Homo sapiens: one gene and its partner. Changing the gene in region 1 together with any one later gene gives a genetic interaction. Each region holds a gene or a part of one and is shown on either strand. Other genes may lie near its edges.

Evidence for each region. Genes that interact genetically often act in the same process or in processes that back each other up.
Region 2: changes in GEMIN2 (region 1) and CENATAC together harm fitness more than expected from each alone (negative genetic interaction), as found in Homo sapiens cells (one large-scale study listed by BioGRID).

Annotation. Positions count from the first base shown.
Region 1 is NC_000014.9:39,120,036-39,125,137, forward strand, and holds part of GEMIN2 (gem-associated protein 2), read left to right. Parts: intron 1-2,394; coding exon 2,395-2,508; intron 2,509-4,956; coding exon 4,957-5,001; intron 5,002-5,102. UniProt on the Homo sapiens protein: The SMN complex catalyzes the assembly of small nuclear ribonucleoproteins (snRNPs), the building blocks of the spliceosome, and thereby plays an important role in the splicing of cellular pre-mRNAs.
Region 2 is NC_000011.10:119,008,138-119,011,637, forward strand, and holds part of CENATAC (centrosomal AT-AC splicing factor), read left to right. Parts: intron 1-2,626; coding exon 2,627-2,693; intron 2,694-3,083; coding exon 3,084-3,146; exon of another isoform or gene 3,147-3,174; intron 3,175-3,500. UniProt on the Homo sapiens protein: Component of the minor spliceosome that promotes splicing of a specific, rare minor intron subtype. Negative regulator of centrosome duplication.

The DNA.
Region 1 (5,102 bases):
GGCCTTTTGGGTGCATGCCCACTAACTAAAAAAGAAGCCACATCAGTAACATTATGACTTGATAAAATTTTGTCAAAAATGGAAATGACCTAACATAATTGATTCAATAAACTATGGTCCATCAGAACAGTGGAATATTATGTAGCAATTTTAAGTGTTTGTCATGGCAAATGCAAACATCATATAAGTAATAAAATGAAAATGTTTTAAAGTACACTCTGAGCCAGGCACAGTGGCTCATGCCTATAATCCCAGCACTTTGGGAGGCTGAGGTGGGCAGATCACCTGAGCTCAGGAGTTCGAGACCAGCCTGGGCAACATGGCAAAACCCTGTCTCTATTTAAATTATTTAAAAAATAAAGTACACTGTGATGGCAACTGTGTGAAAACATAAACATTTGTTTATTAATTGATCCAATAATTTAAGCATGTGCTATATTTAATAATCAGGATATTCAGTACTAACTGAAACAGAAACAGCTTCTGACCTAATAGAGTGTTAGGAAAAGGTAGATAACCTTATTCCAAGACAATAGGGTTTAACTTTGTAGTGGTCTCATGTTCATCGTGAGGTTTTATTTTATTTTATTTTATTTTATTTATTTTTTTGAGATGGAGTTTTGCTCTTGTTGCCCAGTCTGGAGTGCAGTGGCACAATCTTGGCTCACTGCAACCTCTGTCTCTTGGATTCAAGCAATTCTCCTGCCTCAGCCTCCCAAGTAGCTGGGATTACAGGTGCCTGCCACCACACCCAGCTAATTTTTGTATTTTTAGTAGAGACGGGGTTTCACCATATTTCCAGGCTAGTCTCGAACTCCTGACCTCAGGTGATTCATCCTAAGGATTTAATGAAAGCTACTTATCCCTAGGGGGAAAATGCACCTATGCAAAGTAATATACAAGGTGATATGTACAAACAAAGGTTATTTTGTTAAGGAGGTTATATTGAGCTGAATGCTTCTCCCAAATAGTCCTGCGTCCTGCTTTTTCTGTCTGGCAGCATGAGTAGATCTGTTTCTTCTTTGACTGGACAACCCTTCAAATATGTGAAATATGTAATCATGTCTCTTTACATGGGATAAATATCCTTCATTCTATTAAGTGTTCTTGGTGCATTTTTTCCCCCATACTTATTTCTGTCTTTATCATCCTCTTTTGGACACACCATTGTCTGTCAGTGTCCACTAAAGTCTTGTCCAAACTAAACACATCTTGGCTGGGCACAGTGGCTCACACTTGTAATCCCAGCACTTTGGGAAGCCAAAGCAGAAGAATTGCTTGAGGCCAGGAGTTTGAGACCAGCCTGGGCAACATAGTGAGACAACTATCTCTACAAAAAAAATTTAAAAATTATCAGGCATGGTGGCACATGCCTGTAGTCCCAGCTACTCAAGAGGCTGAGGTGGCAGAATTATTTGAGCCCGAGATTCAGGCTGCAATGAACTGTAATCACACCTCTGCACTCCAACTTGGGCGACAGAGCAAGACCCTGTCTCAAAAAATGTAATAATAAGGAAAAACAACATGTCCCACATATTGTGTAGCCACTTAGGCACTATGTTTGTCAGGGCTGCCATAACAGACTAGGTGGATTAAACAACAGAAATGTATTTATTTTCTCAGTCTTGAAGGCTGAAAGTCAAAGAACAAGGTGGCAGCAAGGTTGGTCTCTTTTTGTTTGTTTGTTTGTTTTTTGAGGCAGAGTTTCGCTCTTGTTGCCCAGGCTAGAGTGCAATGACGCAATCTCTGCTCACTGCAGCCTCCGCCTCCCAGGCTCGAGTGATTCTCCTGCCTCAGCCTCTGGGTAGCTGGGATTACAGGTGTGCACCACCACATCCGGCTAATTTTTTTTTTTTTTGTATTTTTAGTAGAGGTGGGGTTTTGCCATGTTGGCCAGGCTGGTCTTGAACTCCTGACTTCATGTGATCGCCTGCCTCGGCCTCCCAAAGTGCTGGGATTACAGGCGTGAACCACCGCACCCGGCCTAAGGTTGGTCTCTTCTGAGGCTTTTCTCCTTGGCTTGCATAGGGCCACCTTCTCCCTGTTTTCTCACGTGGTCTTTCCTCTGTGTGTGGGAGTCCCTGGTGTCTCTTTGTGAATCCAAATTTCCTCTTATAAGGACACTAGTAAGATTGGATTACGGCTCACCCTAATGGCCTCAATTTAAATTAATCACTTCTTTAAAGGCCCTGTCTCCAAATACAGTCACATTCTGAGGTACTGGAGTTTAAGGTTTTAACATACAAATTTGGGGGCAGAGATTCTCCCCATAACTGGCTCCGTATCTTTGGGTTGCGGTAATGGGAATATGGAAGGACTTAACTTCTTTTTTTTTACTGTTCAGTGTAAAAATTAATACACAGGAATAAATCAGTTTTTTTTTTTTTCTTTTAGCCAAAATCTGAAGATGAAGAAGGCTGGAAGAAATTTTGTCTGGGTGAAAAGTTATGTGCTGACGGGGCTGTTGGACCAGCCACAAATGAAAGTCCTGGAATAGATTATGTACAAGTAAGGGCTGTGTGGATAAACAGAACAAAAAGCATTTTAATTTTGGTGCACCACTTAATATAAGGGGTCAGCAAACTCTACCCTGGGCCAAGTCCAGTTCATGGCCTTTTTTATATCCATGAGCTAAGGATTGTTTTTAGGTTTTGAAAGAGTAAAAAAGAAACAAATAATATGTGGCTGAGACTTTATGTGGCCTGCAAAGCCTAAAATATTTGCTGTCTGACTCTTGATAGAAAATGTTTGCCAACCCAGACTTAGTTTATTAGCTCTTCAACCTAACAAAACAGCTTAGTTTCTGAAACAATTTACTGTGACTTTTTTTAGTTTGGCTTCATATCCCTTATGTTTGGCTTGGTAATCATTTTATGAGTTGGATAAGATTCATAGTTTTTTTAAATGATGAGGCATCAGGCAAACAGTGTTATGAGTAGCCAGGGAAAAAATGGAAATCGACACAATTAGATGCTTTAAAATGCATAATCACATCTATCACTTCATGGGCCTGTAAAAAATAAATCACATATTCTAAAGATGAAATGTTGAGGATATCTTTAAAATTCATGTGGCTGTAATCATAAGTTATGTAGACAACTCCTTGTCCTTCAGGATTTACCTGCCCCCAAGTTTGCAGGTGTTCCTTGAGAATCCAGTGCATGCCTCTGCATTAGCGCTTACTCCCTATAGCATGTAGTTCTTTTCAGTTCAACAGGTATTTATTATTTGCTATATGGTGCCACATTGTGTTTTTCACATTTAAAACTAATTTTTCCTAAAAATGTAAAAAGCCCCAAGAATCAATAAAAAGACCAAGAATCACCCCTCCCCTGCCCAAGAAAAAATAGCCAAAGGATATAGATACCTCACAGAAAGGAAATAAAATTATTCTTATATGACAAGATGCCAAAAATCACTTGTAATAGAAGTATAACATAACTATGCCAAGGTGCTATTTTTCAGGTAACATATTGGCCAAGAAAGTTTGATACACCATATTGACAAGAGCTGGGGAAACAAGCACTCTTAGACGTGGTACAGGAGTATAAATAGACTCAAATCTTAGGGAAGTTAATTTGGTACTCTTTCTATATAACCAATTGATCTTTTGGATGATATCCTTAACATATGCTACATTTCAAAAATAGCTATATATATATATATATATATATTTTTTTTTTTTTTTTTTTTTTTTTTTTTTGAGACAGGGTCTTCTTCCGTCATCCAGGCTGGAGTGCAGTAGTGCACTCATAGCTCATTACAGCTTCAACCTCCTGGGCTCAAGCAATCCTCCCACGTCAGCCTTCAACATACCAGGGGCAGCAGGCACCCACCACCACACCCAGCTAATTTTTAAATTTTTTGTAGCGATAAGTTTTTTAATTTTTTAAAAAAATTTTTTTGTAGAGAGAAGTTTTCACCATGTTGCAAGGTTGGCCTGAAACTCCTGGGCTCAGGCAATCCTCCTGCTGGGATTATAGGCATGAGCTATCATGGCTAGCCAAAAATGGTTTTTAATTTATAAAGAATTAAAACTTACTTATTTAGCTTATTTTCAGAGAATACATACAAGTAAAATACACCATGTTAAAAAAAACCCTTAAGGAAGTAAGCGTTTAATGTATATCCTCTTAAGTTTCTCACAAATCAGTGGTATTTTCATAATTAGCAATCACAGCCTCAGACTCCAAAGTAGACTTTTAAAAATTGAATCAAATTAGGTTTTAAAAATGTCATTCTAATTCAAGTGTCCTTAATTCTTGAAAATATTAGCTTTAGCTGAAGATTTTGAAATGGTGTATACAACATATTAATGTCATCTTATCAATGTTACAGTTTTATTGGATATACTTAATAAGTTAGTTTTTTCAAGTACTATCATGTAAAAAATTTTTAGTCTTTAACATTTTACTTACTAAAATCATACTTTATTTAAAAATTTACAAATTCAGACCAGGTGAGGTGGCTCATGCCTGTAATCACAGCACTTTGGGAGGCTCTGGCAGGTAGATCACTTGAGCTCAGGAGTTCCAGACCAACCTGGGCAACATGGCAAAACCTCATCTCTACCAAAAATACAAAAAAATTAGCTGGGCGTGTTGACATGCACCTGTGGTCCTAGCTACTCGTGAGGCTGAGGTGGGAGCATCACCTGAGCCCAGGAAGCAGAGGTTGCAGTGAGCCAAGATCGCGCCACTACACTCCAGCCTGGGTGACAGAGTGAGACCCCATCTAAAAAAAAAATTACATATTCAAAATTTAAGGCGTTATTTTCTTCCGCATTACAAACATAGTAGTTTCCGGAATGTCTCATTGTTATGGACAATGAAAGAATTTTCTTTTATTTGTTCTTTGTTTCTAAACAACAGTGTGGCAAGAAATTCACCAGTTTGAAAAAAAAAAATGAAGCTTATAATACCATTTAGTAAAATTCAGTCTCATTTTTTCTTTCAGATTGGTTTTCCTCCCTTGCTTAGTATTGTTAGCAGAATGAATCAGGTAAAATTAATAATAGAGATATATGCATTCTTTTGTTTGCATTGTGTGTGAAAGTATTTGAATTGTTAATACATATACTGAATTCTTACAGTATGCAAGAC
Region 2 (3,500 bases), on another chromosome or scaffold:
TTCTAGTCGGGTGGGATGAGAGACGGAGAAAAGAAATAAGACACAGAGACAAAGTATAAAGAAACAACGGTGGGTCCAGGGGACTGGTGCTCAGCACACCAAGGACCTGCACCGGCACCGGCCTCTGAGTTCCCTCAGTTTTTATTGATTATTATTTTTCATTATTTCAGCAAAAAGGAATGTAGTAGGACAGCAGGGTGATAATAAGGAGAAGGTCAACAAATTACATGTGAGCAAAAGAATGTATATCACGATTAAGTTCAAGGGAAAGTACTATGCCTGGACGTGCACGTAGGCCAGACTTATGTTTCTCTCCACCCAAACATCTCAGTGGAGTAAAGACTACAAGGCAGTATCACTGTAAACATGTCTCGCCTCCCGCCACAGGGCAGCTTTTCTCCCATCTCAGAGTTGAACAAATGTACAATCGGGTTTTAAGCCGAGACATTCAGTTCCCAGGGGCAAGCAGGAGATAGTGGCCTTCCTCCATCTCACCTGCAAGAGGCTTTCCTCTTTTACTAATCCACCTCAGCACAGACCCTTTACAGGTGTCGGGCTGGGAGACAGTCAGGTCTTTCTCATCCCACGAGGCCATATTTCAGACTATCACATGGAGAGAAACCTTGGACAATACCCCGCTTTCAAGGGCAGAGGTCCCTGCGGCTTTCCACAGTGCATTGTGCCCCTGGTTTATTGAGACTAGAGAATGGCAATGACCTTTACCAGATGTACTGCTTGTAAGTATTTTGTTAACAAGGCACGTCCTACACAGCCCTAGGTCCCTTAAACCTTGATTTTATACAACACATGTTTTTGTGAGCTCCAAGTTGGGTCAAAGTGGCTGGGTCAAAGTGGCTGGGACAAAGCTACAAATCAACAACATCTCAGCAAAGCAACTGTTTAAAGTACAGGTCTTTTTCAAAATGGAGTCTCTTATGTCTTTCCTTCCTACATAGACACAGTGACAGTCTGATCTTTCTTTCTTTTCCCTACAACTTATTATTATTTTTGAGACAGAGTCTTGCTCTGTCACTGGCCTGGAGTGCAGTGGCCCGATCTCGGCTCACTGCAACCTCCACCTCCGAGGTTCAAGCAATTCTCGTCTCAGCCTCCCAAGTAGCTGGGATTACAGGCACCTGCCACCACATCTGGCTAATTTTTTGTGTTTTTGTAGAGACAGGGTTTCACTATGTTGGCCAGGCTGGTCTTGAACTCCTGGCCTCTTGATCCACCCGTCTCGGCCTCCCAAAGTGCTGGGATTACAGGCGTGGGCCACACCGCGCCTGGCTTAAATGATTTTTTAAAACTAAGTGGCTTAATATTCTGCAATTTTAATCTGAGAGGGGTGGAACAGAAAGCCCCATACCTCATCAGAACCTGGGAGTTGATGAGAAACCATTTGATGACAACCTCCTAGGGGAGATGGGGAGGGAAGTGGGAGATGGCCTCATAGCAGCTTCTGGCAGACCTTCCACCCTCGTGTTCCAGGAGGATTAAACAAGCCTTTCAGCCACAATTCGGTAAGGTGTGGCTCAAGCCATTGTCTCCTTGGATATATTCAAGGCTCTCAGGGAACACTGTTGATAGTGGTATTGGTATTATACTGAAACTTTGTGTTGAGAACCAGGGTTTTGAGAACCAGGGTTTTCACTATGGCAAAAGGAAGATACAAGTAAGGAATGGAGGCATTTGAATAGGGAGGTGACAGTACAAATTACTGATTTAAGGCCAGGCATAGTGGCTGATGCCTGTAATCCCAGTTCTTTGGGAGGCCAAGGCAGGAGAATTGCTTGAGCCCAGGAGTTCGAGACCAGCATGGGTGACATGGCAAAACCCTGTTTCTACAAAAAACACAAAAATTAGCCAGGCATAGTGGTGCTGTCCTGTAGTCCTACCTACTCAGGAAGCTAAGGCAGGAGGATCTCTTGAGCCTGGGAGCCTCTTGAGCAGAGGTTGCAGCGAGCTGAGGTTGTGCCACTGCACTCCAGCCTAGGCAACAGAGCGAGCCCGTCTCAAAAAAAAGACAAAGAAATTTAGGACAGTATGCAAGATTTGGCCTGGATTCTTCTGAGGATGTGAAGTAATGGAAACAGTAAGACTGTTCCAGACTAGGGGAAGACTAGAGACCTAATAGCTGGATTCCATGTGATCTTTTGTTGGACTTTGGGATTGGAGGTGAGAGTAGAGAAGGCATAATGCACGTTTTTGAGACGAGGGAAATGTGAATATAGCCTGTATGCCTACACTCAAGTCTGAAGACATGTAAACCATGTCTATACTAACCAGCCAAATATTTGAACACTAAAAGGAAGAATTTTCTTAATGTGGTAATGGTATCATGGTTGTATAGAATGTTCCTCCTCTTGGGAGATGTGTGTTGAAAATAGGGTTTGACGTCTAAACCTATTTTGTTTTGGCAAAAAGGACGTGTGTCTGTACAAAAGAAGTGGAGCCAGTATGGCAAAATGTTTACAAGGACTCTGGGTGAGAGGTACATAGGTGCTTACTATACTGTTTTGTTTCTGAATTTGGAATTTCTCAAAATTAAAAAAATATCTACTGAGGAGCTTTTCGTTTTAACTGGTGGGGAATGGGTTCTGGGTGGTTTTGCCCCTTTTCTTTTTAGATTCAAGAAATCCATGGTGAAAGGTTTGGATTCCTATGAAGAAAAGGAGGATAAAGTGATCAAGGAGGTAAGTTAAAGTAGCAGTCCCTCACCCTTTTTGCACCAGGGGCTGGTTTCGTGGAAGACGGTTTTTCCACAGATGGACCCAGGCAGGGGATGGTTTCAGAATGAGACTGCTCCACCTCAGATCATCAGGCACTAGATTCTCATAAGGAGCACGCAACCTAGATACCTTGCATGCCCAGTTCACAATAGTGTTTGTGCTCCTATGAGAATGTAACACCACCACTGATCTGACAGGAGCTCAGGCGGCAGTGCTGTTGCAGCCTGCTTCCTGACAGGCCACAGACCAGTACTGGTCCACGCCTGGGGGTGGAGGGCCCAAGTTAAAGGAAAGGCCTCTGAAGAAACTGGCCCCCATGATCCTGTACCTGTCTAAGCAGCCTCTCTCCCACAGATGGCAGCTCAGATCCGTGAGGTGGAGCAGAGCCGACAGGAGGTGGTTCGGTCTGTCTTAGAGGTTGGTTTCCCTCGGAGGATCCAGACCAGTATCCAAATCCACTGATCCCTGGCATTCCCAGGTCCAGCATTTCATGGACTAGTGCTTCTTCTTCTTCTTTTTTTTTTGGAGACAGAGTTTCGCTGTGTCACCCAGGCTGGAGTGCAGTGGCACGATCTCGGCTCACTGCAACCTCCACCTCCCAGGTTCAGGTTCAAGCGATTCTCCTGCCTCAGGCTCCCGAGTAGCTGGGATTACAGGTGCCGCCACCACGCCTGGCTAATTTTTATATTTTTAATAGAGGTGGTGTTTCACCATGTTGGCCAGGCTGGTCTTGAACTCCTGACCTCAGGTGATCCACCCGCCTCAGCCTGC